Regions from separate parts of the Homo sapiens genome. Here region 1 is linked to region 2. The links come from fine-mapping of genetic effects on gene expression. A gene starts in region 2. The other region holds a variant in brackets. All regions are shown on one strand. Distances are from middle to middle.

What was found. PIP is the estimated chance that this variant, and not a neighbour inherited with it, causes the effect.
Region 1: its variant is fine-mapped to the expression of ZNF484 in whole blood (TOPMed, PIP above 0.99).

What each region holds. Positions count from the first base shown.
Region 1 is chr9:92,846,810-92,863,351 of GRCh38, forward strand. ZNF484 (zinc finger protein 484) reads right to left here. Exons shown (of 5, transcript NM_031486.4): 3 at 9,383-9,509; 4 at 9,002-9,094; 5 at 1-1,742. Among named protein-coding and RNA genes, the nearest start is that of ZNF484, 23 kb to the right of the region's middle. The variant C/T (reference allele first, on the strand shown) is at 7,100.
Region 2 is chr9:92,867,614-92,884,155 of GRCh38, forward strand. It overlaps ZNF484 (zinc finger protein 484), which reads right to left and starts at 10,425. Exons shown (of 5, transcript NM_031486.4): 1 at 10,277-10,425; 2 at 7,402-7,446. The coding sequence starts at 7,416. It also overlaps the pseudogene SPATA31B2P. RefSeq lists enhancers at 10,180-10,715, 10,229-10,668, 15,004-15,521, 15,522-16,038.

The DNA of each region.
Region 1 (16,542 bases), 21 kb before region 2:
AGTGTGAATTTTCTGGTGTGTAAAGAGATTTGATCTGTCAGTAAAAGCCTTTCCACATTCAGCACACCTATAGGGTTTCTCTCCTGTGTGAATCTGCTGATGTACGTGGAGCTGTGATTTCTTAGTGAAGGATTTCCCACAAATACTGCATTCATAGGGTTTCTCTCCAGTATGAATTCTCTCATGTGTAATAAAATGGGATTTGTGGAAGAAGGCCTTACCACATTCAGTGCAAACATATGGTTTTTCCCCTCTATGAATTCTCTGGTGCATACTTAATGTTGACTTCTGAATGAATGCTTTCCCACATTCACTGCATTCATAATGTCTCTCTCCAGTATGACACTTCTGATGTATCCTGAGCCGAGACTTCCAGGTGAATGATTTTCCACAGTCGCTGCATTTATAAGGTTTCTCTCCAGTATGAATTTTTTGGTGCTTAATGAGATTTGACCTGTCAGTAAAGGCCTTACCACACACAGTACATATATAGGGTCTTTCTCCTGTATGAATTTTCTGGTGTATAATGAGATTTGTCTTGTGAGTGAAGACCTTCCCACATTCTGAACATATAAAGGGATTCTCTCCTGTGTGAATTCGCTGATGCACATGGAGTTGTGATTTTTTAATAAAGGATTTCCCACAGTCACTGCATTCATAGGGTTTTTCTCCAGTATGAATTCTTTCATGTGTGATAAAATGTGACTTCCGGATAAAGGCCTTCCCACATTCAGTACATACATAAGGTTTTTCTCCTGTATGGATTTTCTGATGCATACTTAGTGTTGATTTCCTTGTGAAAGCTTTTCCACATTCAGTACATTCAAAGTGTTTCCCTCCAGTATGAATTTTTTTATGTATATTAAGGTTTGAATTCTGAGGGAGGTTTTTCTCACATTCACTGTACTCATAAGGTTTTTCTCCAGAATGAATTCTCTGGCATCTGAACAGATCTGACTTCTGGATAAAGGCTCTTCCATAGTCACTGCATTTATAGTAATTCCCCTCATAAGGAGTTTTCTGACGGTTTGACTTGAGGGAAAAATCCTTCTCATATTCAGTGCATATTCCTGCATAAACCCTCTGACTGCCATCAAGCTGGGACTTCTGAGTGAAGACTGCCTCACATTCATGGCATTCATGCTGCTTTTCTTCAGCACAAATACTCTCATGTGCAAAGGCATGTGACTTCGGGGAGAAAACATTTACGTAGTCAGAAAACAAATAGAGGCTCTCTCTAGTATGAATTTTCTGTTGTTGAATGAGAGCTTGCTTATGATGCAGAGGTTTCCCACATTGGTTACATTCACAAGCAGTCACTTCTGTATGAGAATTCAAATGAGTGAAAATATCACCATCTCCAATAGTCTTATCAGAATTTTCTGTTGCATTGTTTCTATTATATAAGGTTATGATAGGCTCCAAATTCTTTCCACACGAGTTACAGTTATGGGGTCTTTTTCTTGAGGAAACCAGGTGTGTGTTTACATGAACTATTTCCCCAATGTCCTTATATTCAAAGATGCTGTCATTAGCTAGTGTTTTCTTGTTAATGAAGACAACACGACTTAAAGGTTTGTTCTGGTTTTCTCCACATTTTCTTGTGTGTTCATCGTCTTTCCACAATTCTTCTAAAATGGAATATGGGTCATCTCTTGTGAAGAGATTAATATTAATCTCAGACTGGAAAGAAACTTCTTCAGACATCCTCTGTTGTAAAGGTCCAAAACCAATGTCCCCATCTAAAAAAGAAAGAAAAGATAAGACTGACAAAAAGAACAATTAACAGAAAATAAGGCCAGGTGCGGTGGCTCATGCCTGTAATCCTAGCACTTTGGGAGGCTGAGGTGGGCAGATCACTTGAGGCCAGGAGTTTGAGACCAGCCTGGCCAGCATAGCAAAACTCTGTCTCTGCTAAAAAACACTCAAAATATTGTCTCTACTAAAAATTAGCCAGGCGTGGTGGTACATGCCTGTAATTCCAGCTACTCAAGTGGCTGAGGCAAGAGAATGGCTTGATGGCTTGAAGGCAGAGGTTGCAGTGAGCTGAAATTGCGCCATTGCACTCTAGTCTGGGTGACAGAGCAAGACTCTGTCTCCAAAATAAATAAATAAATAAATAAATAAATAAATAAATAAATAAATAAAAATACAATAGACCTTTGATTCAGGCCGGGTGTGGTGGCTCACGCCTGTAAGCCCAGCACTTTGGGAGGCTGAGGCAGGCGGATCACCTGAGGTCAGGAGTTGAAGACCAGCCTGGCCAACATGGAGAAACCTCATCTCTACTAAAAATACAAAATTAGCCGGACATGGTGGTGCATGCCTGTAATCCTAGCTACTCAGGAGGCTGAGGCAGGAGAATCACTTGAACCCAGGAGGCAGAGGTTGCGGTGAGCCGAGATCTTGCCATTGCACTCCAGCCTGGGCAACAAGAGCGAAACTCTATCTCCAAAAAAAAAAGAGTTGATTCAAGGCAGACACAGAGATATGAGAGAGACTATATAAATATAACAAATGTACATAAGTATTTTAAATATACATAAATATATAGGTATAATAACTCATTTATATATAATATGTAATACAATGATGTAGAGTAATAATATTAATACTAACATTTATAACATGATAAACAATATCATTTAGATGTGCTGTTCTAAGTTCTATATTAATTCACTTAAACTTTATCACGGCCCGGTGTGGTGGTTCATGCCTGTAATCCCAGCACTGTGGGAGGCTGAGATGAGAGGATTGCTTGAGCCCAGGAGTTTGAGACCAGCCTGGGAAACATAGTGAGACCCCCATCTCTACAGAAAAATGAAAAAACAATTAGCTGGGCCTAGTGGCACATGCCTATAGTCCCAGCTACTTAGGAGGCTGAAGCAGGAGGATCACTTGAGCCCAGGTGTTTGAAGCTGCAGTGAGCTCTGATCGCACCATTACACTCCAGCCTGGGTGACAGAGTGAGACTCTGTCTCTCTCTCTCTCTTTTTTTTTTTTCTTTTTTAAGACAGGGTCTCACTCTGTTGCTCAGGCTAGAGTGTAATGGCATGATCAGAGCTCACTGCAACCTCCACCTCCTGAGTTCAAGGGATTCTTGTGCCTCAGCCTCATGAGTGGCTGGAACTACAGGCATATGCCACCACAACTGGCTAATTTTTGTATTTTTAGTAGAGACGGGGATTCACCATGTTGGCCAGGCTGGTCTCAAACTCCTGACTTCAAGTATCTGTCCGCCTCGGCCTCCCAAAATGTTGGGATTACAGGCGTAAGCCAGCAAGCCCAGCCAAGACCCTGTCTCTTAAAAACAAAAACAAAAAGCACTTTATTGTAACCCTTTGCTGTTGGTATTATTATTGTTTCTAGTTTACAGATGAGGAAACTGAGCCACAGAAGAGTTTAGTTAAATTTGCCCAAATCAAATGTTTAGTAATTGGGGAAGAAGAGATTGCAATTCAGTGCAAATGTAGTAGAACTACATGGTGAGTGAGGTGTCAGAAGAACAAAGTGATAAACTCTGTGAAAAGAAGTATTTCTGAGTCTAGATTCTTTTCCTTAATCTGTAAATCCTCACAATCTTCCTGTTTTCTCTTCTCCCTATGATCCACTGTGCCCTAAATACCAATGTATTTATGTTTACAGTAAAATTACGATATCTTAGTCATCCTAACTTGGCCAAACAGAAAAATTTATATACATTTGTTATATTTATATAGCCTCTCTCATTTATCTGTGTTTTCCTTGAATCAACTCTATGTAACAATTGGTCTATTTTCTTTTGAGATGGAGCCTCACTCTATCACCCAGGCTGGAGTGGCTGGAGTGCAATGGCGCGATCTCGGCTCACTGCAACCTCCGCCTCCCGGGTTCAAGCAATTCTCCTGCCTTAGCCACATGAGCAGGTGGGACTACAGACATGTGCCGCCATACATGTATTTGTAAAAATACAAATTTTTGTATTTTTAGTAGAGATGGGGTTTCACCATGTTGGCCAGGCTGGTCTCAAACTCCTGACCTCAAGTGATCTGCCTGCCTCAGCCTCCCAAAGTGCTGGGATTACAGGTGTGAGCCACCGTGTCTGGCCTATGGTTCAATTCTTCATCCCTGGTTTGGGGTACTGATGTGATAAATGCATCTGGTAGAAGACATAACAGGAAAGAACTAGACATCAGAAGAGAAGACTGAAAGTTGTTCATCAAACCTGTGCCCTTCCTTCACAATATTAAGCTTGTAGCCAAGCACATGGCTGCTTCACAACACTAGGTTTGTTCAGCTTCATTTGTCACTAGGTGGCACTGAGTAACTCTTTTTCACTCATCAGTGGAAGTGATAAGGCCAATGTCTTAAGAAAGTGGGTTTGTCTCCTACAAACCTCTTCTTTTCCCACCAGTATATTCCAACTTGGCAGCACCCAGTTCTATGAAGCTGGCAATGCCCTAGGGCAGGGGTCAGAAAACTGAAGCCCTTGGGCCAAATCCAGGCCTCTATCCAAAAGCTAACAATGTATTTTACATTTTTAAATGGTCAAAAAATTAAAAGAAGAATACTACTTCACGACATATGAAAATTATATGAAATTCAAATTTCAGTGTCCATAAAGTTTTTATTGGAACACAGCCACACCCATACATTGATGTATTGTCTATAGCTGCTTTGGGGCTACAACTGCAGAAATAAGCAGTTGTGACAGTAGCCATATGGTCCACAAAGCCTATTTACTTTTGTGCCTTTACAAAAAATTTGTCAGCCCTTGCCCTAGGGGATGGTGGTACAATGACTTTCTAGAAACTTTGTCCCTGAACGGCCATGGAAACAGAGTTGCCCGGTGTTATGGCCATCGAAAAGGGACTAACACACATCTTTCCATTAGTCACTGCAGTCTATTTTATCAATGAACCCAAACATACAGTCTTTTCATTTTCTCCATTTAAGCTTCCTTTTTCTGATCTTTTGTTTCTATCAAAAATTCATTGTTCTTCATTAATCATTTGGGGTTCTCTGCTTTAAAAGCTAATTTCAAATTTCACCACAACTCTAGAGAGGCTCTCTTTTAACTTAAAAACAAACAACAAAAAGGTACTCTGAACCACTCATATTTATATTTGAATTGGCATAGATGTGCACGTTAACAAAAGTGTAATGCACAAAGACTGAAATTTTCAAGATTTCATGCAGTTATCCTCTTTCCAATTAGTTTTTCTAGCCCTTTGAATTGCTCCTAAAAGAAAAATTTTAAAATCTTTCTGAAATAGAGCAAAACGACCTCCTCTGCTTATAACACAAATTCAGGAATTTAATTTCACTATTTTCTACAGAAACTTTGCATTTTAATGTACAAGAGTAAAAGCCTCAGTTATCATGTAATTTAATGTAGGTTTCTCTGAATTTCTGGAGGTTGTATGCTGCAATAGGTCAAATTCAAGGAGTAAGTGAAAGCTGAGCACAAAATATGTGTATTATTTGGTTTTTTGTTTGTTTTTGTTTTTGTTTTTGTTTTCTGAGATAGAGTCTCACTTTGTTGCCCAGGCTGGAGTGCAGTGGCACGATCTCGGCTCACTGCAAGCTCCGCCTCCTGGGTTCACACCATTCTCCTGCCTCAGCCTCCCAAGTAGCTGGGACTACAGGCGCCTGCCACTATGCCTGGCTAATTGACCTTGTGATCCACCTGCCTCAGCCTAAAGTGCTGGGATTACAGGCGTGAGCCACCACGCCCAGCCTTTTTTTTTTTTTTTTTTTTTTTTGAGACGGAGTGTCGTTCTTGTCACCCAGGCTGGAGTACAGTGGCGCGGTCTCAGCTCACTGCAACCTCCACCTCCTGGGATCAAGTGATTCTCCTGCCTCAGCCTCCTGAGTAGCTGGGATTACAGGCCCCTGCCACCTCGCCTGGCTAATTTTCATACTTTTAGTAGAGATGGGGTTTCGCCATGTTGGCCAGGCTAGTCTCAAACTCCTGACCTCAGGTAATCCACCCACCTCAGCCTCCCAAAGTGGTGGGATTACAGGCGTGAGCCACTGTGCCCAGCCAAAATATGTGTATTATTTGAATACGCAGATAGATAACATAATAATCAAAGGGCTCGATGAAAAGGGAGAATTAAAGAAAATCTTAAAATAGGATAGAAATGGTTATAGAAAACAGGGACAAATGTGAATTGCAAATATGAGGCCATATTCTTTCTCTAGCTTACAAACCTACTGAGAGGAGAATCTGTCACATGTTAGATATTAAGTAGTAACTTTAGTTTTCTTCCATGTAGCTATGACAGGATAAACACAGCACACAATGTTTTAAGTAGTGAAATCTATCAGCAGCATCTGAGATGAAATAGTGAAAAAGAAAGAATGGGATTATCACATACAAATAGGATTAGAATAATCTAGGCATGAGAAAACACAGACATGGTTGTAGGTGATATGACTGGGAGGTAAGAAAGAGGCTTTTGTAAATGAGAAAAATAAGTAGAAAAGCAGAATGAATTATCTGAGAAGATGGATTAGAGGGAAAAGTAAAAAAACTCCAAGAGAAGATGACAACATTTTGAAAGGCAAGCCACCTGCTTTTACATGCTACATTGTATCTTGTCTTCCTTCACACAAACAGCCAGACCCTTAAATGCAAACAGTATTGGTCTTTCCCCTGAGTGCTGTATACAATAGGGCCAATGCCTGACTGAGACACACAAATAACAGTCACAGAGTAAAAGTTGTTCCCATGAGCCAATTATCACTCAGAGCTTATGCTGCAGCTGAGACACATAATCTAAGACACAGATTATGCTGGGCTGAGACACATGGACCTGGGCAACTTTAAGGAGGGCCCAAAGCCCTTACACCTGCCTCTAAATGTCCATGATAACTTCTAATGTAGGTTAGTTATGTATAGGACAGAGGCAAAGTGCATACTTGCCAGCAGGCAGTATAACCAGTTGGGAAGAGGAGAAAGACCCCTGTGGGGGTGGTCATTGCCTTGACATCCTGCTTATTGCCCCAGCTGTAAATGACCTGCAAGGAGAAATGGACCCCACCCCAAACTTGGTTCAGATGTCAAGAGTGACGATGAGACACACACAATAAGAGGGTGTAAAAAGATTTGTTA[C/T]TCACATAATGAGGCTTTCTGGGGACAGCTCCAAGCAGGTCCAGATGGGGCTAGAGTGAGCAAGGAAAGGACTGTCTTGGGAGTTTATGGCAGGGGCGGGTGGGGCTGGGCTAACTATTCCCTTATGTAGTTGGAATTTCCCAGCAACAATGGAGGGAACTCATGGGCTTTTTTCTCAGTTTGTCCAGGAAAAAAAGAGAGAGAGATGAGGCTTAGAAAACATCAGCAGTTGAACATCAAAAATGAAGGATACAGAATGAGATGTTCAAAGTATTTTATTAGGGAAATACAAATTAAATAATAATTAGAAATTAAAACCCATCAGATTAGCCAAAATATTAAAAATTTGGATAATACTAGGTATGGGTAGGGATGTGGGGAACTAATACCCTTGTACAAAGTTCCAGGGACCGTAGAGTGACACAGCCAATCTGGAAAATAATGTGCTTATACCTCATCATATTCAATATTAGTATGCCCAATGATAAAGCAATCCCACTCCTCTTCCTTAAGAAATTCTCATTTCCGGCTGGGCGTGGTGGCTCCCGCCTATAATCTCAGCACTTTGGGAGTCCAAGGCGGGTGGATCACGAGGTCAGGAGATCGAGACCATCCTGGCTAACATGGTGAAACCCCGTCTCTACTAAACATACAAAAAATTAGCTGGGTGCAGTGGCGGGCGCCTGTAGTCCCAGCTACCGGGGAGGCTGAGGCAGGAGAATGGCGTGAACCTGGGAGGTGGAGCTTGCAGTGAGCTGAGATCATGCCACTGCACTCCAGCCTGGGGGACAGAGCGAAACTCCATCTCAGAAAAAAATAAATAAATAAATTATCATTTCCAGTAAGAATAATTCATGAAGAAATGTATTGCAGTACTGTTTGTAGTAGCTGAAAAACTGGACAAGTAAAATGGGGTATATATGTGCACTACAGAATGATATGTAGAAATTAGAATAATGCACTGCAACATGGACCAATTTGAGAAAAAAAAACTTGAGTAGGATATATAATACAGTACCATTTCTACAAATTAACAATGCCAACAACTCAGATTTTATAAATATCCCAGAAATTCAAGGATAAATGGCATAACATGTCAAATATATTAGAACAGTTGCCTCTTGGAAGGATAAAAATGAGTATGGAGACTGAGGATTAAAAAGAATAAATAAGAGGGGAGCCTTAAACACATTGATGATGATATTGACTAAAAACTAAGGCTATAATTATTAACTCAATCTTCTGTACAGGATATACCTGTACACTAGATAAAAAACTTTGTGTAAGATATGAAAATAAATAAATTAGAAAGATCAAGTCAGTGTTGCGTTGCACTAGCCAAGTAGGAAGAAAATGTCAATGGTACTCTCAAAGTCAACAATCAGAGAAGAGGCATGGGGGGACTTCAGACAAGCCCATCTCTAGATGACAATTGTGAGGCACTAAGGGGAAAGAGACAAAATGAGAAGAAACAGCAGGAGCTGAAGTTGTAATGCATAGTAATGTTTTCAGAAGGTAGATCTATGAGTATTTGAATGCATAAGGAAATGATCTAAGACCTTGATGGAGGTAGAAAGAATAAAACTTTTCTAGGGAAAGAGAGAAAAAAGCAAGAAAACAGGACCCTAGAAAGTAGAGTGTGACATGATCCAAAGAACCAGTAATTGTAGCATATTCCCTCCTAAAAAGCCAAGCAAAGAAGAAGGCATTGATATGAGAAGGGATCTTAAGTGGGGTTAGCATTTAGCTATCCAAGGGTCCTTGTCTAATAACTGCTCTTCCAAGCAGTTCTAAAAGTCATTATTAATGACACATCAAAGTTGGGCAAAGTTGGGCACAGCTTCTCCCAGTACAAATGCAGCTGAGTCATACTGTCTACCATGCTCTTGGTTCCCTTCTCACCTGGACGGCTCTGACTGGGGATCTCACCATCCAACATACATGGCTCTTCTTGTTCCAAGCTGAAGATGACTTCTGGTTTGGGAACTTGACATCCTGTTAACAGGGGATGATAGAGGACTTGATTTCAGAGGCCATACAATGAAGCATTCCATTTTTTTCCCAAAAAAGTTCACTGGGAACAGAGGAATATTCACACTACCCGAAAGAGATTATTAAGAACATGGGACAAAATAAGGACAAAACCATTACACACTTTAGATGTCCTGCAGTCTTTAGAAGTCCCACATACCTCAGAAAACACAGACTTCAGCAATTCTACTGAGAAGAAAAATATACTCAATTAGGTGCAGCCTACTCTATACCCAGCAGAGCCGTGCTTACCCACTGAGATCAAGTTGAAATAGTTTTCCAGCATCACTTCTCTGTACAGGCTTTTCTGAGCAAGGTCTAATTGTTGCCACTCATCCCTACTGAAGTCTACAGTTACGTCCTTGAATGACACTGATTCCTGTTAAAAAAAAAAAACAAACTTTAAAATAATTTTTTAAAGAATATATTTGAATTCAAAAAAAAAAACCTTTCAATGTGAAGGATCGAGATTACAGAATGGAAACAAGATAGGACCTTATTTTTAATGTGATACAATATACTATAAAGAACTTCTACAATTCAACGACAACGAACAAAATAATTTTAAAAATGGGTAAAAAGCTTAAATAGACATTTCTGCAAGGAAGATATACAAATATTTAACAAGCACATGTAAAGATGCTCAACGTCATTAATCACTAGGGAAATGCAAATTAAAACTACAAGATATTACCTCACACCCATCTGGATGATAAAGAAAATGTCTAAAATTGATTATAATGATGGCTGTACAACTGAGTGAATACACTAAAAATCAATACATGGTACACTTTTTTTTTGAGACAGAGTCTCGCTCAGTCGCCCAGGCTGGAGTGCAGTGGCTCGATCTCCACTCACCGCAAGCTCTGCCTCCTGGGTTCACGCCATTCTCCTGCCTCAGCCTCCTGAGTAGCTGGGACTACAGGCGCCCGCCACCACGCCCAGCTAATTTTTAAAAATTTTTTTAGTAGAGACGGGGTTTCACCGTGTTAGCCAGGATGGTCTCGATCTCCTGACCTCGTGATCCGCCCGCCTCAGCCTCCCAAAGTGCTGGGATTACAGGCATGAGCCACGACACCCAGCCTAATATGGTACACTTTAAATGGTAAACTGTGTGGTGTATGAAGGAGAGGGCTCTTTTTCAGCACTGCCATTTCCAGATGAGATGCAGTAGCTTGGCAGTCCAGTGCTTCCTTCAACAATGAACTGTAAATGCCAGACGCAATACTTGAAATCATCTGTTTCAAAGCACTGGAAAGCTGCTGAGGTAGCAAGAAATATAGGGGCTAAGACTGGAGAGGAGAGAATATTAAAGATTGAAGCTGACTTATTCAGTCACTCTGACAGTGGGAGCATTTACCAATTCTGGCTGTGGACAAAAGCTGAGAATCCAGCTTTTGTCCTGGATTCTCATTTTGTCCTGTCTACTGGAGAATGCAGTAGAAGGCTGCAGCTGGGTGACAGAGAAACCAACATAACTCAAACACATGGCCATTTTCCCCTCAGGATATTTGCTGAATTCTAGGGTATATAGGGCAGTAGACTAAAAATGTAAGCAAACAGCCTTTGAAGAACAGAGCAAAAGTCTAGTATCTGTTAAGAAAATAGTTGGGCATCTATCAGGAAGAGGGTCTTTAGAGGACAAAAGGGCTCTCAGCTGAAAATTCTCAGGAGCCAGGGTGATCCAGAGGTAAAGTGAGTCTTAGCAGAGCTTCAACCCGGCCTTATTTCAACATCAACAGTGCCTGACTGGATGTACGTGTTCTCCCTTCCCTCCATTTGCTAACATAAGGAAAGATGAATCCTCTGTGGAGAAAGATTTTTTTTTTCTTTTCTTCTGAGACAGGGTCTTGCTCTGTCATCCAGGCTGGAGTGCAGTGGCACAAACACGACTCACTGCAGCCTCGACCTGGGCTCAAGCAATCCTCCTGTCTCAGCCCCACAAGTAGCTGGGACTACAGGCACATGCTACCATGCCCAGCTAATTTGTCTATCTTTTGTAGAGATGGGTTTTGCCATGTTGCCCAGGCTGGTCTGGGACTCCTGAGCTCAAGTGATCTGTCCCCCTCAGCCTCCCAGGTATGAGCCCTGCCTACAACTTATTATACACAGTGTTTAAAACAAACAAAAAAATCCTACACATCCAAAAAGATAGGACCACATATCCAAAATCAGAGAAGGAAAAAATTCAATAGAAACAGTCACACAGAGAATTGGAGTTAGATGAAAAGAGGACTATCTTTAGAGAGTTGGTTCTTATAATAAAGAATCAAATGAAAGTTCAAAAATTGAAAAATCTAAAATCTAAAATTAAGAAGTCCTTATGCAGGTTTAACAGCAAAATACAGAATTTCTGAAATGGAAGACAAGTAAATAGAAAATATCCAAACTGAAGCAGAGATTTTTTTTTTAAAGAAAAAAACATAGGAGCATTAGGAATATGTGTGACATAGTAAAAAAGGTATAACCTATCAGAGTCTGAGAAGTTAAAGAGGAGAGTGCAGGGAAAAAGCAATATTTGAAGAAGTAATGGCTATGAATGTCATCAACCCTTAGGATTCAAGAAGCTCTTCAAATACCTCTTTACAAAACTGCAAGTATTGACTATGCAAAACAGTAACAGTACTATTCTGGGAGGTTTAAAATGTATGCAAAATTTAAAATAATGGAAATAATAATGCAAAAATGGGAGGCAGTAAATAGAATTAAAGTGTTTTATAAAGTATCCTAGCATTATTAAGGAGATAAAATAGTAAGTTCAAGATGAATGTTTTAATATCTGGGGTAACAAACAGTAAAAGAATTATAACAAGTAAACAAAGGAAAAAATTAAAGAGTAAAAAAATTATGTAATATAAAAAGTCAAGAAAGGAATGAAAAAATAGGTAGTTCAAATAAAAACTAGGCCGGGCGTGGTGGCTCACACCTGTAATCCCAGCACTTTGGGAGGCTGAGGCAGGCGGATCATGAGGTCAGGAGATCGAGACCATCCTGGCTAACACGGTGAAACCCGGTCTCTACTAAAAATATAAAAAAATTAGCTGGGTGTGGTGGTGGGCACCTGTAGTCCCAGCTACTCAGGAGGCTGAGGCAGGAGAATGGTGTGAACCCAGGAGGTGGAGGTTGCAGTGAGCCAAGACTGCACCACTGCACACCAGCCTGGGCAACAGAGCAAGACTCCATCTCAAAAATAAAATAAAATAAAATAAAAACTAATAGTAAGGTGGTATATATAAATTCAAGTATATCAGTAATTACATTAAGTGTAAATGCATTAAACATCCAAGTTAAAAGCAAGGATTGAGACTTCTGGTTCTAAAAAACAAAACAAAAAAAAGAGTGCATTCCACCCAATTCCTCCTGCTAATTACCTAAAAATCTAGAAAAATACATAAAGCATCTGTCAGAAGACTCACTGGTGGAGAAAAGAAAGTAGAACCTAAGGACTTAAAAAACAACACAGTAGTGAGTTAGTTCCCTAGAGGGAACTTAGAGGGAGAGAGGGAGCTCCTACATATTGCAAAATGAGTACTAGAGGAGCTTGCAACCTGGAAGAACCAATGAGCACAGACAAAAAAGGCCTCCCCAAAGCATACATTTTCCAGCCAAATAATTTGAAATAGGGCAGCAATGCAGGATGGGACCTTTTGACTACACATACCTACAAAGTTCAGAAGTACCCAAGAACACCCTCACTTCTGACACCTACTGCAAGCAGAGGGATTTCCCAGGATCACCTGTACTTCTGACACCAATTCCAAGTCAGGGGTCCCCAGGACCACCCTCAGGTTCCACAATTCACAGAAGAACTCACAGAAATTAGAAAAGCCATAATACTCATGGCTATGGTGTTATATAGTGGCTTTACAATGAAAGGATACAGATCAAAATCAGCCAAGGGAAGATGTGCTTAGTGCAGTGTCAATGAGAGTTCCAGGTGTGAGCTTCCAGTGGTTTTCTCCCAGTGGAGTCATATGGACAGCACTTACTTCTCCCAGCAATGATGTGTGATGATAATACGCATGGAGTATTGCCAACTGGGGAAGTTCACTTGAGCCTTGATGTCCAGAGTTTTTACTGAGACTTGATCATGTGGACATGAATGACTCCCACTGTGGCTGATCTTAGTCTCCAGCCCCTCCAGAGCTGATATTGCATGGCCAAAGGTACCCCACTATAAACCACATGTTGGCATAGAATATTCAGTGTGGCCCAAAGCTCCCACCATAAATCACACTGTCATTATATACTATCTTGCATGGCCTAAGCAAGGCCTGCAGGACATTCCAAAGATTTAGAGGTTACCTCCCAGGAGCTGAGTGCAAAGGCCAAACCTCTCTTTGGGCAAAGTTAATCCTTTACTGCACAACAATATACTTGAGGCCAGGCGCGGTGGCTCACGCCTGTAATCCCAGCACTTTGGGAGGCCGAGGCAGGTGGATCACGAGGTCAGGAGATCGAGACCATCCTGGCTAACATGGTGAAACCCCATCTCTACTAAAAAAATACAAAAAATTAGCCGGGCATGGTGGCGGGCGCCTGTAGTCCCAGCTACTTGAGAGGCTGAGGCAGGAGAATGGCGTGAACCCGGGAGGCGGAGCTTGCAGTGAGCTGAGATCACACCAGTGCACTCCAGCCTGGGCGACAGAGCGAGACTCCATCTCAAAAAAAAAAAAAAAACAACAAAACAAAACAAACAAAAAAAAACCAGTATACTTGAGGTGAAAACTACAAAAGATGCATCCTTTGCCTTCTTCACAAACAATGTGACTCCAAAGATGGTGGGGTGGAGCTCTCTCAATCATCCCAACTGCATTAGCTCAAAGAGAGGTAGCACCCCTCTTGCCTCTCCAGCAGGCATTATATAGACTGTATTGGCTAACCCTACCCCAAATTAAGTGAATGACAGCAAAGAAGAAGTAGCTACCTTCTTCCAATAGAGAGTGGAGGATGGATTATGGAGAAAGTTATAAAAAGGGGTTCTTTAAATACATGTATGATGACCTGGGCACACCTACGAGCAGCCCAGATATAAAATGAATCAGAATCAACATAGAAAAAGCTTTCAGGGCTGAACTAGGGTGTGGGATACTGTCCAGGTTTCAAATTAGCTTCTGGGTAGCACAAAAATGAGGGAGACCAAAATAGAACTGCAAAGACTTTCAAAACTAAGTTGAATTTGAAATACAGCCCATAAAAATAGACCAAGACATGCACTCTAAACCTAAATGTGTTGACAACTGCTAAAATAGAGGATTTGAAGAGAAAACAGAATCTCATAACATGATATTCAGAATGTCCTGAATAAAGCCAAAATTATTCATCATCTTAAGAACCAAGAAAATCTGAAATCAAATGAGAAAAGAGCATCAACAGATAGCAACACTCAGATGAATCAGATGTTGGAATTATTTGACAAGGATTTAAAGTAGCTAACTAAAAGTGTTGCAACAAGCAGCTGTAAATAGTGTTGAATCAAGTGGAAATATATAAATTCTCAGCAAAGAAATAGAAGGTATGAGGAGGAACAAAATGAAAATTTTAGAACCAAAAAATACAGTAAGTGAAATTAAAAACCTCACTGGATGATCTCAACAGCAGAATGGAGATCCAAAGGAAAGAATCAGTTACCTCAGTTACCTGTAAGATAGATAAACAGAAATTATCCAGTCTGAACAATAGAAAAAATAATTGATGAAATGATTGTTTCATCAATTCCCTCAGGCTGTATTCAGCCTAAGGGACCCAGCGGGACAATAACAGAACAGCCAACAATCATTTCAGCAGTCCTAGAAGGAATGAAAAAGTAGGACGGGAGACTGGAAAAAGATATGAAGAAATAATAGCTGAAAACCTCCCAAATCTGGTAAAAGGCATAAATGTACAGATTCAAGTCGCTGACCAAATCTCCAAAAGGAAAACCTCAAATAAATCCATGTCTAGATACATTGTAAGATTTATAAAATCCAAATTTAAGAATAGAACCTGAAAACAGTCAGAGAGAAATGACACATTACATGTAGGGAAAGGGCAATTTGAACAAGAATGACTTTCTCATTAAAAACCACAGATGTCAAAAGGAAGTGGGACCATATTTTTCAAGTGCTGAAGAGAAAGAGCTGTCAATATTGAATTCAATATCCAGTGAAAATAAAATAGGCTCTGTTTAAATTCTCTTAAACTTAATTCTGAGGAATTACCTGCCATTGGTAGTTGAGAAAGAAGTCTGAAAAAAAAAATAAAAAAAGAATTAACTGCCATACATTTATTAAGCATAATTACTTAGGTAATTCTTAGGAATTACCTGCCATATATTTACTAAGCAAGATGTTGAGAACTTTATGTTGTGAACATCTTCACAACTTTACACAATATGCTTCAAGACATCAAAGAACTTACAACAACTTTCTAAGATATTATAAAGGGCATAAGAGATGTGCAAAGCATAGCATGACCCCAAATAGAGAGAAGAAAATTCTACATGGAGTGTAAGACTAAGTTCTGTAGAGTTGATGAAACTTAAGCTTAGTCTTGGGAGATGCCATGTTTAATGCAAGCAGAGTAGGGCAAAGTGATTTTTAGAAGGGAGCAGCATGAGCAAAGGTATAAAGACAGGAAAATACATGATAAATTCAGGGAACCACAAATTAGTCTGCATAATGAGAAGTCTGTATGCAGTGAAGGAAAGGTGTTTATGAGGAAATTTCAGTAGAGGTATGCTGGCATGAGATCATGCAACTATTTTTCCTCCAATACATAATGGACTGCCATTAAAGTAATTTATATATAGAGAAAAGATTATTAGATTTATGTTTACAACTGCCAAGAAGATGCTGGCCAGGTTGTGGAGAAATAGGAACGCTTTTACACTGTTAGTGGGAATGTAAATTTGTTCAACCATTGTGGAAGACAGTGTGGTGATTCCTCAAAGATTTAGAAGTGGAAATACCATTTGACCCAGCAATCCCATTACTGGTTATATACCCAAAGGAATATAAATCATTCTGTTATAAAGATACACGCATGCATATGTTCATTGTGGCACTATTCACAATAGCAAAGACATGGAATCAACCCAAATGCCCATCAGTGATAGACTGGCTAAAGAAAATGTGGCACATATACATCATGGAATACTATGCAGCCATAAAAAGGAATGAGATCATATCCTTTGCAGGGACATGCAGGGAGCTGGAAGCCATTATCCTCAGCAAACTAATGCAGGAACAGAAAACCAAACGCTACATGTTCTTACTTATAAGTGGGAGCTGAACAATGTGAACACATGGACACAGGGAAGGGAACAACACTCACTGGGGCCTGTTGGGGAAGGGTGGGGGGTGGGAGAGCATTAGGGAAAAAAGCTAATGCATGCTGGGCTTAATACCTAGGTGATGGCTTGATAGGTGCAG
Region 2 (16,542 bases):
AACTTAAAGTAAAATTTTAAAAAAAGAAAATATTGCACCCATGAATATTAGAAAGATCATTCAGAAGTGAAGAAAAGAGTCCTTAAAATTAAAAATACAATATTAATGAGAAACTCAGTAACCTGAAACTTTCCATGATACTGCACTGAGCACATCTTCTCTGGCTGATTTTAATCCACGTCCTCTTTCTGTAATGAACTATAAGCATGAGTATAATGGCTTTCCTGAGTTGTGTAAGTCCTTCTCGTGAATTATTGAAACTGAGGGTGGTCTTGGAGACTCCTGAGCTTGCAGTTTCTGTCATAAGTGAGGGTAGTCTTAGAGACGCCTAAATAATTTTACTTGGGCTTGTATCTGAGTGTCAATAGGGCTGTATTCCTTCTGGAGGTTCTAAAGGAATATCAATTTCCTTGATTTTTCTAGCTTCTAGAGGCCACCTGTATTCTTTGGCCTTAAAACAACACAAACTTGTCACTATTCTGGAGGTCATATGTCCAAAATAGGTCCTGCTGGGCTGCACTCCTTCTGGAGACTCTACAGGACAATCCATTTCTATGTCTTACCCAGCTTCTTGAGACTCAAGAGATCTAACATTTGAGAAACATGAGGACAATTCCTAGTATCATGTGGAAGGGACAGCCCATGCCAGTAGCTGAGTATCGGATAGAGAGTAACTATGAGCAGGTCGACAACTCCAAGAGGAGTTTCTTTAAAGAGCTGAAATGAATAGCATGTAATCTAGAGCCAACGGCCTGGGTCTTATTTTCCTGGCTTCATCATTCAGGAGCTGTATGATCTTGGGCAAATTCCTTCTCTGTGTAACAGTTTTCCTCCTCTGTAAAATGAGAATAATGATTATAGATAGCTGTCTTTGTTTACTGTTACTATAAAAGAACACCTGAGCCTGGGTAATTTATAAAGAAAAGACATTTATTTGGCCCATGGTTCTGCAGGCTGTACAAGAAGCATGGCATCAGCATCTGCATCTGGGGAGGGCCTTCAAGCTGCTTCCATTCATGGCAGAAGGGGAAGAGAAGCCGGTGTGTGCAGAGATCATATGGCAAAAGAGGAAGAAAGAGAGAGCGAATGGGAGGTAGCAAGCTCTTCTCAACAACCAACTCTCACGGAACTCATAAGATTGAGAACTCACCACCTCCCCAGAGAGGGCATTAATCTATTCATGAGGGATCTGTCCCCATGACCCAAACACTTCCCATTATGCCCTACCACCTCCTACACTGGGATCAAACTTCTCTTTTATTTTTAAAATTTCTTTTTATTTATTTATTTTTGTAAGAAACAGGGTCTCGCCATATTACCTAGGCTGATCTCAAATTCCTGGCCTCAAGTGATCCTCCTACCTTGGCTTCCTGAATAGCTGGGATTACACACAAGCCACCGCGCCTGGGTTGGGGGATCAAATTTCAGCATGAGATTTGGAGAGGATAAATATCCAAACCATAGCAATAACTCGTAGGGGTTGTGACTGAATTAGTTAATAGAGAATGCTTATAGTGCCTGGTATATAGTAAGCACTATATTAATGTTTATATTATATTACTGTTATTATTTAGTATATTTTAATATATTGAGAAGGTATTTATATACCTGGGAAGACTAGCGATGAATTACTGATATGTATAATATATATTGTACATGTATGTATGGAAAACAAAACAAATGATTAAGCCAGACACTTATAATTTCAGGTAAAACAAAAAGCACTGCATAAAAAGTAAATGGCTCACTTGTGAATATTGTTAAAATAATCATCATAATAAAATGCAGCCTATTGATTTACCCCAAATTATGATATACCCATATTAGGCTGGGCGCAGTGGCTCACGCCTATAATTCCAGCACTTTGGGAGGCTAAGGTGGGCAGATCGCTTGAGCCCAGGAGTTCAAAGATCAGCCTGGGCAACATGGTGAAACCCCATCTCTACTAAATAAATAAATAAATAAACAAAATACCCATATTAGATGGAGGGTACATGAGAAATGTGTACGTGAGTGTCAAGGGCCTGAGTGTCTGAAAGAGAGCTAATTCCTTCTTTCCATTGTGTTGTCTGTAGATAACTGCTTAAAACTGAAAGCCTAGAAATACCAATACAAACATGTTATTTAGACATATGAAAGTAAACAGCAAAAGATAACTAAACTGAGTTCAAAGTGATTACCTTTGAGAAGCTGAAATTTGAAGAGGAATAGAGCAGATGACAACTGTTTTATTCTAAGAAACCACAAAGAACAATTTGACTAAGTAAATATAGGTAAAACTTTCATGACATTCAAAATGAAATACTTATTTTTAAAAGTTCAAATGCAAAGGACAAAGAGGCAGTTATAACTGACCAAAACGTATAAGACTATGCTTAATATATGAAGTCCTCTGTTCAAACTCAATAAACTGGATTCCACTCCTGGAAAGATACAGTAGATGCACTTGTCTCTATTCATCCTGTTAAGTTCATCTACAAACCATAGACATTATCCATCAAACCAACATACAGACTCTGAAAGGTAAAGAAAAATAGGCACCCTGGCTAGGGGCCTCAGGAACCAGGGAAGTAAACAGTAATAAGCTCTCTGTGTCTTTCGGCCTCATATAGATAGCTCTGACCAGGTGTTCGAAAAACCTACAATCCAGAAACATCAACAAGTGCATACAAAAAGGCCTGGAAAAAAGTGTTTTCTCTAGCTAAAAGACCAGGAAAGGGGCAACAGAGAAAAATAAAAAACTTTTAGACAAAACCTACTCCAACCAAATACCACAGATTATAAAACAACAAAAAACTGTGGGCTTGATTCATCTCTCATCAGCAAAGACTCAGTGGGTAGCCTAGACTCCTGTATTTGCCTGGCTGCCTGGGGATGCCCCTCCACTGCAATAGGGTAGTATGAGAAAAGCCAACTGGGGAGCTGGGACTTTCATCTCTGCACAGTGGTAATGGGTAGCTTTCTTGCCATGCCAGTGGGAGCCACCTCAGGGCTGGACTTCCATTCCTACCTAGCAGTAATGCGACACTCTTCCCATCACGACAGGTGTGGTGTGAGAGGATGTCAAATGAAAACCCAAGACCTTCATCACTCTGAGAGGTAATGAGGCCCTATCCAACCTAACAATATCAGAGAAGACAGCATGAAGAGCAGAAACAAGGTACCCTCTCCTTTCAGACAAGGTGATGTCACCAGAGGTCTACTGGGGAGCCTGAACTGCCAACCCCAACTAGCAGTAATGAGGTGTCTCTCTCCCCACAGACTGTCAACAGAGTTCAAGTAGGGAACCTGCAAATTCACATCCACCTGGCAGTAGTACAGCAAGGCCCCCCAATTCCCACACTGGCCCAGAGGACGCCTGCTAAAAAAGAGGACTCAAATAAGATCTAGAGTCTCATAATGCCCAAGGTTTCCACAATACATTACAAAATCATTTGTAAAACCAAGAACCAGGAAAATCTCAACTTGAATAAGGAAACAACCAATCAACCGATACTAAAACTGAAGTGATGTATGTTATCAGAATTATTTCATAAGGATTTTAAAGTAGTCCTCATAAAAATGTTTTAACAAGCATATGAACACACTTGAAACAAAAAAACTTCAACAAAGAAATAGAGAAGAGATGAAAAAACCAAATGAAAATTTTAGAATTAAAAAATAACCAATATTAAAAACTCAATAGATGGGCTCAAAAGAATGGAGGCAACAGAAGAAATATTCTGAGTACCTGAAAATAAAGTAGAAATGATCTAATCTAAAGAATGGAGAGAAAACAGACTGAGAAAAAAAGGAACAGAACCTCAGAGACATGTGGGACAATAACAAAAAATCTAACATTTGTGTCATTGGAGTTCCAGAAAGAGAAAAAGAAGAGAAAGGGATGGGGGCTGAACAAGTATTTGAAGAAATAATGAATGAAAATTTCTGAAACTTCCCGAAAGATATACACTTACAGATAGAAGCTGGGCAAATCTCAAAAAGGATAAAACCAAAGAAATTCACACTAAGGAAGAATTATAGTGAAACTTGTGAAAAATACAGACAAAGAAAGAATGCTGAAAGCATTCAGAGAGAAACTACACATTACCCACAGGAGAAAAACAATTTGAATGACAATGTGAGATACTAAGAACCATGGCTCCCCAAAGATGTTCACATCCTAATTCCCAGAAATTGTGAATATGTTAGGTTGCATGGCAAAAGGGAATTCAGGTTTCAGATCAAATCTAGGTGGCTAAATCGGCTGTCCTTAAAATAGGAAGATTAATTATCTTAGATTATCTGGGTGGGCTGAATATAATCACAAATTTGCTTAAAAGTTAAAGCAGGAGGGCCAGGCGCGGTGGCTCATGCCTGTAATCCCAATACTTTGGGAGGGCCAATGCGGGCGGATCGCCTGAGGTTGGGAGTTTGAGACCAGCCTGACCAACATGGAGAAACCCCGTCTCTACTAAAACATACAAAATTAGCAGGGCGTGGTGGCACATGCCTGTAATACCAGCTACTCGGAAAGGTGAGGCAGGAGAATCGCTGGAACCCGGAAGGCGGAGGTTGCAGTGAGCCAAGATCGCGCCATTGCACTACAGCCTGGGCAACAAGAGCAAATCTCTGCCTCAAAAAAAAAAAAAAAAAAAAAAAAAAGTTAAAGCAGAGGCAATAAAAGAGAGTCAGAGAAAGATGCGACTACAAAAGAGTGGTCAGAGAGATACAATGTTGATGGCTTTGAAGTTGGAGGAAAGGGCCACAAACTGAAATGTGAGCACCCACTAGAAGCTAGAAAAGTCAGAAAATAGAAACAGATTCTTTCAGGTTGCGGTGAGCCGAGATCGCGCCATTGCACTCCAGCCTGGGCAACAAGAGCAAATCTCTGCCTCAAAAAAAAAAAAAAAAAAAAAAGTTAAAGGAGAGGCAATAAAAGAGAGTCAGAGAAAGATGAGACTACAAAAGAGTGGTCAGAGAGATACAATGTTGATGGCTTTGAAGTTGGAGGAAAGGGCTACAAATTGTGAAATGTGGGCACCCACTAGAAGCTAGAAAAGTCATAGAAAATAGAAACAGATTCTTTCTTACAGCCTGTAGAAAGGAATACTGCCCTCTTGACACCTTGGTTTTAGTTCAGTGAGACCCATGTTGGCCTTCTAAAATATAGAACTGTAAAAAAAAAAAAGTTATTTTTAAGCAACTAAATTTTTGAATTTATTTCAGCAGCAATAGAAAATTAACATGCAGTTTTAACTAATATCTCATCAGAAACTTTGGAGGCCAGAAGGAAGTAGCACATTTTTCAAGTGCTAAAAAAAAAAACAAAAGAACTATCAACTTAGAATTTTGGATCAGGCAAAAATATCCTTCAGGAGAATGTGGAAATCAAGACATTCTCAGTCCTCCAAAAATTCGTATGTTTAGGCTGTAACCCCTAATGTAACTGTATTTGGAGATAGGGCTTTTAAGAGGTAATTACGGTTAAACAAGGTAGGGGTCCTAATCTGATAAGACAGGTGGCCTTACAGAGAGAGATTCTCTCTCCATAGGCAGGCAGGCAGGCAGGCAGGCGGTCACTAGGGAATGGCCTGTGAGCACATAGTGAGAATCTGGTTTTCGTCTACAAGCCAAGAAGAGAACCCTCATCAGAACCTGACCATACTTGCACCCTGATCTCTCAGTTCCAGCCTCCCAGAACTGTGAGAAAATAAATTTTTGTTGTTTATTCCACCCAGTCTATGGTACTTTGTTATGGCAGCCTGAGCTGACTAAGACAACTACTAACAGCTCTGCACACATAAATTTGACAACTTAGATGAAAGGGACCAGTTCCTGAAAAACACACAAACTACCACAACCCTCTCAATATTAAATAGACAATGTGAATAGCCCTGTAACACTTAAAGAAACTGAGTTTGTAATCTTAAAACTTCCAAAAAAGAAATCTCTAGGCCCAGACAGTTTCTCTGGAGAATTCTACCAAATATTTGAAGAATTAACATAATTAACATAAATTCTACACAGTTTTTTCCAGAAAACAGAAGAGAAGGGCATACTTCCCAGTTTATTGTGTGAGGCTATGATTTCCCTGACACAAAAACTGGACAAAGTATAGAAAAAGAAAACACAAACTATACACAATCTCTGGCAGAATAATCAATACAAAGGAACACATTCCAACTTATTTTATGAGGTCAGGGTTATCGTGATACCTAAACCAGAAATAGTACCAAAAGAAAAAACAGAAAGAGAGACAGAAAGAAAAAAAAAAGCGATATCCTTCATAAATATGATACAAAAACCCTTAACAAAATATTAGCAAATACAAATAATTTAAAAAGTATATACCACAACCAAGTGGAGTTTATTCCATGGATGCAACGCTGGTTCAATATTAAAAAATCAATCAATGTAATCTACCATACCAACAGACTCAAGAAGTAAAATCACATGATCATGTCAATTGGTACAGAAATAGCATTTAACAAAATTCAACTCCCATTCACGATAAAACCTCAAGGTTGTTTCAGAAGGTGGTCCTTGGACAAGGAGCATTGATGTTCTGTGGAAATTTGTGAGAAATAAAAATTCTCATATCCCATCCCATAGCTACTAAATCAGAATCTGAATTCAAATGCAAGTAAAGTGTCAGAAGCACTGTTCTATAAGACAGCAACAGAAAAACTGTTAGTGCACGTTCTTTCTTTCTTTCTTTTTTTTTTTTTTTTTTGAGACAGAGTTTCGCTCTTGTTGCCCAGGCTGGAGTGCAAAGGCGCAATCTCGGCTTACTGCAACCTCTGCCTCCTGGGTTAAAGCAATTCTCCTGCCTCAGCCTCCTGGGTAGCTGGGATTACAGGCGCCCGCCACCACACCTGGCTAATTTTTGTATTTTTAGTGCAGACGGGGTTTCACCTTGTTGGCCAGGTTGGTCTGGAACTCCTGATCTCATGTGATCCACCTGCCTCGACCTCCCAAAGTGCTGGGACTACAGGTGTGAGCCACCGCGCCTGGCCTGTTAGTGCACTTTCAGTAGGGTTGTTGTTGAAGACTGCTCTGTCATTAACCATCTGAAGATCTATCAAAAAATTCCTCAAACATCAAGAACCATGACATCTTTACTACAGATGAAATAAATTACTTGTTAATTTTATTAATATAAACCATGTATCCAATTTCCATTATTGCTATGTCTTTCAGGAAGATCAGAGACAATTTAACAGTTCAAAGTTCATGACTGTGTAAGACCATATATTCTAAACTTGACTTGGGGCTGACAGTCTCTTCTTCATTTTATCTGATCTTAGTTTTTATTTATTTAGTCTTGTCATCTTACTATAGGGATTGTTAGATGTCTCCTAAAATCCACTAAAAGTAAAAGAAAGCAACAAATAAACAGATGAACAAATAAGAACTCACCAGGGACTTGGTCATTTTTGGCTCTTCGGACAAAGGGGCAGAAATCTGAGAAAACAGATGGGTAGAGGTACCCATGAGAGAAGGAACTGTGCCAATGTCACACATGGACACATACATCATTTAGTGCCCTTGCACCTTACTCAAAAATTTATTTCTGGAACTACCACATTAAAATATCATCCCATCCCATATTGTACAAAGATTTAAGTGCAAAAGTTTTACCATAACATGGTTAATAAAAAAGAAAGATTAGAAATGTTTAGATATTCAATAATTGTGGATTGCTTAAATACTTTATAAAATATCCAAAGGATATACTGTTCTATTACGTTATTATACTATCTGATTTCACAGGCCCTTCAAGTTATCATCAACCCTGGTACCTAACTCCTCACTACCACTCTTCAATCTGCTCTAAGTGTCAATTGGTGCCCAGAGACTACTCCCAGAAGCCATTACTGAAACCTCAGATTCACTGATTTCCATGCCTTGCTGCCCCTGAGCCAGGCCTGCATCACTCATCCTACAATACCTGATCACAGAGTCTTCAATTCCTCTACCCTAATGGTCCTGGCTCTCTACCAATCAATCCCACATCCCCATGACTGGCCTCTATGCCTGTATGACTACCGATCATGCATCTCCATCAGCCATCCCAAGAGTCCCAATCCTAGGCACACCTGTTTCTGCACTGGGGCCTTAGCACACATACACATCTCCCACCACTGACACAACTAGGCTATAAGCTCCTCCACATACACAAACAGGAACTCAATCAATGAACAAATCAGGGGAAATTCTTGCATGTATAGAATAAATTTATAAATAGAAAACACTTCTAAATCTAATTGTGAAAAACCAGACTATTTACAGAGGAAAAATGAAGGAAATAAGAAAACTCTTCATCTGCAGTACTGAAAGCTAAATGATGTCGGAAATAGCATCTAAAAGACCACTTCTCTGTCAGGGCCAGAGAGACATTTTCAGAAATAAAAGCACTTGCAGAGTATCTCTATCTTTGAGAGAAACACTGGAAGAAGTCCAAATAAATGTAAAATGAACCACACAATAAATCTTGAATAGGAAAATATTGTTTAGCAATAATTCTTGCAAAAGATATATAATTATAAAAAAGGACAATGTGACAATGTGATAAAGAGGCCACTAAAGAGAAAATTAATAATACCCTATGATAAAACATTCCTAATAATCTCAGGAAAAAAACAGAAAAAATGGGGTGCAGAATGGAAACAATGAGCAGAAATTTCATCAATCCAATGAAAATATTATGTAAAGAAAAGGCAGAAAATAAAAAGAGCTAAATAGTAAACATCAAATGGAAGGCATAAAATCAGATAAATCATTATCACACTAAACTGAGATGTAAAATTCTATCAACAGAGACTATAAATTGGATTTGAAAAAAGCAAAAGTATCTATTGTAAACAAATAGGTAATCTGACACAGAGACAAATAGGATACAAAATAAAGCTCTGGGCAAAGACATCATCCAAATGCAATGAAAGTAAAAACAAGGGTGGCAATGTGAGTATCAACGTGGAATTCGATGTTAAAAAGTGTTTTTCTTGGAATTCGATGTTAAAAAGTGTTTTTCTTTTTTCTTTTTGGTTGAAAAAAGGGATCCTATAATAATACCACTTAATACATGAAAAAGGATAAAAAATGCACTAACCATTAAGTGTATGTATGCCCATCCCTCAGATGCACAAATAAAATTAGCAAAAAAGCACATATAACTGCAAAATGAACTATTAAAAGTGATTTTTATTGTATCTCCTCCAGAATATGAAACAAGTAGATCAAAATTAGGAAAGATAAAGATTTGAAAAATACCAACAAGCAAGACTTAATTAAAGAGAATTTTGGTCCATACAACAAAATATAATTTTTCTTTTATATCTGTTGAACAAAGTTCATTGAGTAACTTGGCTTCAAGGAAAATCTTGATAAATTGTTAAAAGTTGAGACTTGATAGTCTGCATTTTCTGACAATACAATAAAATAAAAAACAGCTAAAACATACTTTAATAATTTGGGAATGAATAAACTCTCCTAAATAACTAAGATTCAAAGGGAAACATCAAAATGAACTTATGCATTTCATAAAGATGTACTTAAAGAAACTTTACAACCCTAAATGTATCCCGCATAAAACTTAAGAAAATAAGGGAAAGAACAACAAATTACATCAAAAAGTGGGAAAAAGAGAAAGTACCTAAAAAGAAAAAGAGAAAAAAATTAATATTAAAAGAGTAGGGAGTATTTTATTGGACATTTCAAAATGTCCAATGAAACAGATAAACCTTTCAGACGCTTGATTCTTTTTAAATAGAGAAAGAATGAATGATATATAAATATAATAACCGTAATGATAAAGGAGCTACTAGTCTGGATATGAAAGAGAACAAAATGGAAATGGAAACATGCAATTCTATGTAATATATTCTTTAAATCTTTAGCAAAATATATCATTATAATGAAACAGAAACGAAAATATAAACAGATCGGTACGTATAAAAGAGAGGAAACTAATTAAGATGTGCATCATTCACACTCCTCAGATCCCTCCTTAGTTCCCATAGTCATCCTCCCCCACAACCCCACAGTCCGCCCTCACTCCGCCCTCAGATCCACCACCAGACAGAGACCCCCAGTCCGTCCTCACTCCGCCTGCAGATCCACCACCAGAGACCCCTCAGTGCCCCCTCACTCCTCCCTCAGATCCACCATCAGAGATCGCTCCGACTTCCACTATTCCATCCACTGACCGACCCCATCACTGACCGGAAGGCTCAGGACAGACATCAGAGATTCTTCTTGCTCAGTCCACAGATGCTGCCATCCCTCTACTCACCTGCCCCTCACCCACGTCCTCTCAGGACAGTGGTCATTTGCCTCGGGAGGTGACTATAGTCGCAAGAACCAGAACAGGACCCACTTCCTTTTTCTCAATGCCTCCCAGGCCTAGAGGTACTTCTTACAGCGCTGCCTGGGTTTGCGCATGCTCAGCAGTCTTCATGGCCTGAAGGTTGCCAGTAATCAACATGGCGCTTTGCCAAACACGCTCCCGTTTCAGCGGCTTAGGCTGGGCGCCAGTATGGCGGCGCCCATGTAGACACTCTGGCCTGTGGGCGGCCATGTTGAGGTCATGTAGAGACTGAGAGGCTGAGGGTTGTCCAAAGGAAAGGAAGCAAGCAGAGGTGTGTCCCATCATACTAAGCCAGGACACAATCAAAGCCTATCACCTCAGGTTACAGTCTTTCTCCAATGCTTCTGTGGACACAACAACACTGTTAATCAACAGGAACTAATCAGCATTTATGTAACACCGCAAACGCAGCCGAATACACATTTTATTCGTGTCGATGGGACATTTAGCAAGATATGAAGTAACCTGGGTCATAAAACAAATCTCAGCAAATTTGAAACAACTGAAATCATACAGTTTGTTCTCTGAACACAATAGAATTAAACTAGAAATCAATAACAGGAAGATAAAAGGAAAATCTCCAAACACGTGAAAACACATGCTAAATAATCCATTGTTCAGAGAGAAAGTCTCAAATTTTTAAAATACATTGAAATGAATGAAAGTGAAAGTGAATGAATTTTTAAAATACATTGAAATGAATGACAGTGAAACACAACATATCAAAATTTGTGGGATGTGGCTAAATCAGTGGTGAGAGAAAAATGTATATACCACTAAGGGCTTACATTAGAAAAGAAAAAAATTTCAAAGCAATAACCAAGCTCCCTCACATACTAGAAAAAGAAGAGCAAAATAAACCGAAGGCAAGTGAAAGAAAGGAAATAATAAGGATAAGAAGATGACTCAATAAAATGTAAAAAGAAAAATAGAGAAAAACCGATTAAACAAAAGCTGGTTCTGTAAATGTTAATAAAATTGACAAATCTGTAGAGGAGACACAAAATATCAATATCCAGAATGAAACAGGAGATACCACTGTAGACCATGACGAAATCAAAAGAATAAAGAGAATACTACAAACAACTCTACAAACATAAATTTCACAACATAGATGAAATGCACTAATTCTTGAAAAAGCACAAATTCTCTCTTACATGAAATAGTTATGTTGAATAGCCCTAGAACTGAAGTCATAATTTGAAATATCTGAAAAAGAAATCTTAAGGCCTGGATAGCTAGATCAGAGAATTCTAACAAACATTTAAAGGTTAACACGAATTATATCCAGTCTCTTCCAGAATAAAAAAAGAATAGAAAGAAGACAATAGAAAGATATTCCAACTCATGAGGCCAGTGTTACTCTGATATCAGAGCTAAAGACAGAAGAAGAAGAAATCAGTATTCTTCATGAATATAGATGGAAAAATTCTCAACCAAATAATAGCAAAAATAATTCAACAATATATAAAAATAACTACAAACCATGAACAAGTGATATTTATTCCAGGAATAAAAAGCTGTTTTGGTATTCAAAAATCAATTTGTGTAACCCCCCACATTAGCAAGCTAAAGATAAGCATATTACATGATTATATCAATGCAGGAAAAGAATTTGAGAAAATTCAACACCCATTTATAATGAAAAAAAAACTTTCAGGAATTAGGAACAGAGGTAAACTTTCTAACTTTTAAGTTAGAAAAAAATCTACAGCTAATGTCAAACTAAAAGATGAAAAAGACTGAATGCTTTCCTGTTCAGTTTGGGAAGAAGGAAAATATGTCTGTGCTCATCATTTTTATTCTACACAGTTCTGGAAGACCCAGTCAGCTGACAAAAATTCTCTCCATAACCAGACTCTAGCCATGCTCCTTTGAACTCTCTTGTCAACTAAACCCTGGCTTTTGGGCTTTTGTGTTGTCTGTGAATTGCCCAATATTAGTAAGAATCCTAGCAAGGCAATTTAGTCAGAATCCTCCATCTTCGTATCTGATCACCATTGATATCTAATTGGTTTTCTTATTGTCTACTATCCCCAGGTGATATCTGATCACTCTGGCATGGCTTCAGCAAGAATTCTGTGAGGTCAGTTTAGCCAGATTCCCTCCTATTAGTAATTTTCCGTACACTACCACCCCTCCACCCTGCTCTGTGGCTATAAAATTTCTATTCAGAGGGAAACCTGAATATATGGAAACTGGAGATTACTGCAAGACCCTATTGCAGTAATCTCTATATCTATTGCAATAATCCCTCTGAATAAAGTTTGTCTTACTATTTTTTAACAGGTGTCACGAATAGTTTTTTCTATGATACAGCTCAACAAAACAAGTCTGAAATAGAAGAATAAAGTGGGAGGAATTATTCTACCCAATTTTTTAACTTTTTACGTAGCTACAGAAATCAAGACAGTGTGGTATTGGCAGGGGTATAGACAGTTCAATAAAACAGAATTGAGAACTCAGAAATATTTCCATACAAGTACAACCAACTGACTTTTGAAAAAGATGCAATATCAATTCAATGGTACAGTGGTTCTGGAGCAGTTAGATACCATAGACAAAACAATGAACCTCAATCTAACCTCATGTCTTTATTTAAAAAAAAAAGGATCAGCCAGGCGTGGTGGCTCACGCCTGTAATCCCAGCACTTTGGGAGGCCAAGGCGGGTGGATCACGAGGTCAGGAGATCGAGACCATCCTGGCTAACAAGGTGAAACCCCGTCTCTACTAAAAATACAAAAAAATTAACTGGGCGTGGTGGCAGGTGCCTGTAGTCCCAGCTACTGGGGAGGCTGAGAGAGGAGAATGGCGTGAGCCCAGGAGGTGGAGCTTGCAGTGAGCTGAGATGGTGCCACTGCACTCCAGCCTGGGTGACAGAGAGAGACTCCCTCTCAAAAAAAGAAAAAAAAAGATCATAGATCTCAATGTAAAAATATGAAATTTAATGATAAATTCTTCAGGTCCTAGGACTTGATGAATAATTATTAGACATGACACCAGAAAAGCACAATTAATTATAAGAATTTATTAATTGGATGTTATCAAAATTTAAAACTTTTGCCCTGCATAAGAGCCTGTTAATAAAAAGACAAGGTAAAAACTGGGAGAAAACTGCAAACCACACCTGATAAACCATATCTGACAAAGAGGTCATATCTAGAATATTGTTTAAAGTTTTCAAAAGTCAACAACAACAACAAGGAAAAACAATCCAATTAGAAAATGGGCTAAAGGCATGAACAGATATTTCACTGAACAGGATATATTGATGGAAAATGAGAAAATAAAATAACTTTTATCAGAGGAATGTCAGTCCTTTTAAATTATCAAGCCCAGAGAGACGTTAAAATAAGACAGCAGGCCCCATGCGGTGGCTCATGCCTGTAATCTCAGCACTTTAGGAGGCCAAGGCGGGCGGATCACGAGGTCAGGAGATCCAGACCATCCTGGCTAACACGGTGAAACCCCGTTTCTACTAAAAATACAAAAAATTAGCCAGGCACGGTGGCAGATGCCTGTAGTCCCAGCTACTCCGGAGGCTGAGGCAGGAGAATGGCGTGAACCCAGGAGGCAGAGCTTGCAGTGAGCCAAGAGCGCGCCACTGCACTCCAGCCTGGGCGACAGAGTGAGACTCTGTCTCAAAAAAAAAAAAGGAAAACTGCATGTCCTGCACATGTACCCCTGAACTTAAAATAAACACATAAGTACATAAATAGAATTTAAAAAAATCTTAATTGTATGTGGGTAGGTCCCTTTGATTGAAAGTGAGATAGAAGGCTGGGCGCAGTGGCTCACGCCTGTAATCCCAGCACTTTGGGAGGCAGAGGCGGGCGGATCACGAGGTCAGGAGATCAAGACCATCCTGGCTAACACGGGGAAACCCCGTCTCTACTAAAAATACAAAAAGAAATTAGTCAGGCGTGGTGGCGGCGGACGCCTGTAGTCCCAGCTACTCAGAAGGCTGAGACAGGAGAATGGCTTGAACCCGGGATGTGGAGCTTGCAGTGAGCCGAGATCAGGCCACTGCACTCCAGCCTGGGCGACAGAGAGAGACTCCTCAAAAAAAAAAAAAAAAAAAAAAAAAAAGGAAAGTGAGATAGAAATAATTTTTTTAAAACTTACTATTCAAAATTTGCAAAACTAAATAAGAGTAAAAGAACTTTACATTTTGTCCCTGGATTGATATAAGACAAAAACATTGTGTGGGAAAGCTGGAGTTGAGGACAAATGAGATTCTGAGAATAAAAATCCCTGGTACATAGCCAAAATTTCAGAGTCAACTTCAGATTTTCAAGGGCCATAAAATAGGTAACCTCAAGCCACCAACTCCAACAGATAAAAGGAACCAGGTAATATGTGTTCCAGGGAGAAAGAATAGAAAATTGGCTGAGTTCTATCACTGACAAAACTTAGCGGGAAGGAGAGATCTGGAAGGTGGGAAGGTGGAGGGATCCCCGGCTTGGGGGGTGGGGAGGGGCTGTGCTTCGGTCTCCCCCTCCTACTGCCCCTCCCCAACAAAGGAGCCCTTTGTGATGTGAAGGCCCAGCTCTGTGATGCAGGCCTGGGCCCCAGTCCCTAGCCTCCACGGGGATGCCCAGAGCTCAGTTGCTTGAAAGCAATGCACCTATTCACATGGAGAATCTTCCCTTTCCTCTAAAATTACTTAGTCCCTCATCGCTAAACACCCCCAGCTCCACACCATGGGTGTTGGATATCTTCCTCACCTTGGTGTTTGCCCTGGGGTTCTTCTTCCTATTACTCCCCTACTTATCTTACCTCCATTGTGACGATCCACCCTCACCATCGCCTGGGAAGAGAAAGGTAAGGAGCCCTCAGTCCAGACCCACAGAGCTTGATTCTCTCCTTCCTTTTTATTATTAGTTCCACTTTTCCAAATCCAGTGGAGGGACTTCTGCGATGGGAAGTCTCAGGAGAGACCGGAACATCATGCTTCCAGGGAGAGGCAGGGCAGCCAGGGGTTGGTAGGGGTAGATTGTGTACAGGGATTTCCATCCCAAGCCCTCAGTCCATCTGTTGGGGAGCGCAGGAGGCGTGAAGGCAAAATCAAACCCGTGGGCTCAGCGGCCAGGAATGGTCATGAGACGGGGGAGGTCTCTGGTCATGAGACAGGGGAGGTCTCTGTCCGAGGCCAGGCCCTAAGCCCTGGCTCATCAGCCCCTTCCTGGGGCAGGTGGCTTGGGGCCCAACCTCCTCTGTGTGGGGTGATATGGGGCCTGTGCTGGGCCCCCAAGGGCCTCCCACCGGGGCCTGGCATCTCCTCTTGTCTCCTGGGAAGCAGAATCCTACCTGACAGCTCAGTGGTGCCTGTGGGCCTGAGCCTGGGTGTTCCAGGAGCAGAGGAACAGGGACTGATGGCGTCCATGGTGGACCTCATATTGAAAATCCCTCTGTGTGTGTCTGTGTGTGTGTGTGTGTTATTTTTATTTATTTTATTTTATTTTATTTTTTGAGATGGAGTCTCACTCTGTTGCGCAGGCTGCAGTGAAATGGAGCGATATCTGCTCACTGCAACCTTTGCTTCCAGAGTTCAAGCTATTCTCCTGTCTTAGCGTCCTGAGTAGCTGGGGATTACAGGTGCCCGCCACCACACCTGGCTAGTTTTTGTATTTTTAGTAGAGACAGGGTTCCACCATGGCCAGGCTGGTCTCAAACTCCTGACCTCAGGTGATCCACCCACCTCGGCCTCACAAAGTGCTCGGATTATAGGCATGAGCCACCGTGCCTGGCCCCCTCTTCCTGTTTTTCTAAGAAGAAAAGCAGTTTATCATCCATTTAAACATGAATGGGAGGAAGCACACAGAGCTCCCTGAGCAAGACAGAGAGAGCCATGCGGTTCATGAGTGCAGAGTGCTGCGGCTGGGCTGGGGGTGGAGAGGGAGAGCCGGTCCTAGCTCCTCGCCATTTCTTGTCTCCCAGTGTCATCTTGTCTCCTCGCGTCATCTTGTCTCCCAGTGTCCAGTAGGGCAGAGGGGGATGCCCAGAGGCAGGATGAAAAACCACAGTCTTCAGAGGTAAGGCTCTGCCAGGGCACACTAGAGTTAATTTGATCTCGTCTGTCCCTGAGGGAACTGACTCTGAAGAAGTCAGTTGAAGAAGCCTGAGGTGGGGGCTCCTAGGAAGGAAATCAGAACCCCGGGTCCTTCTCAGATTCCATGCCGGAATGAAG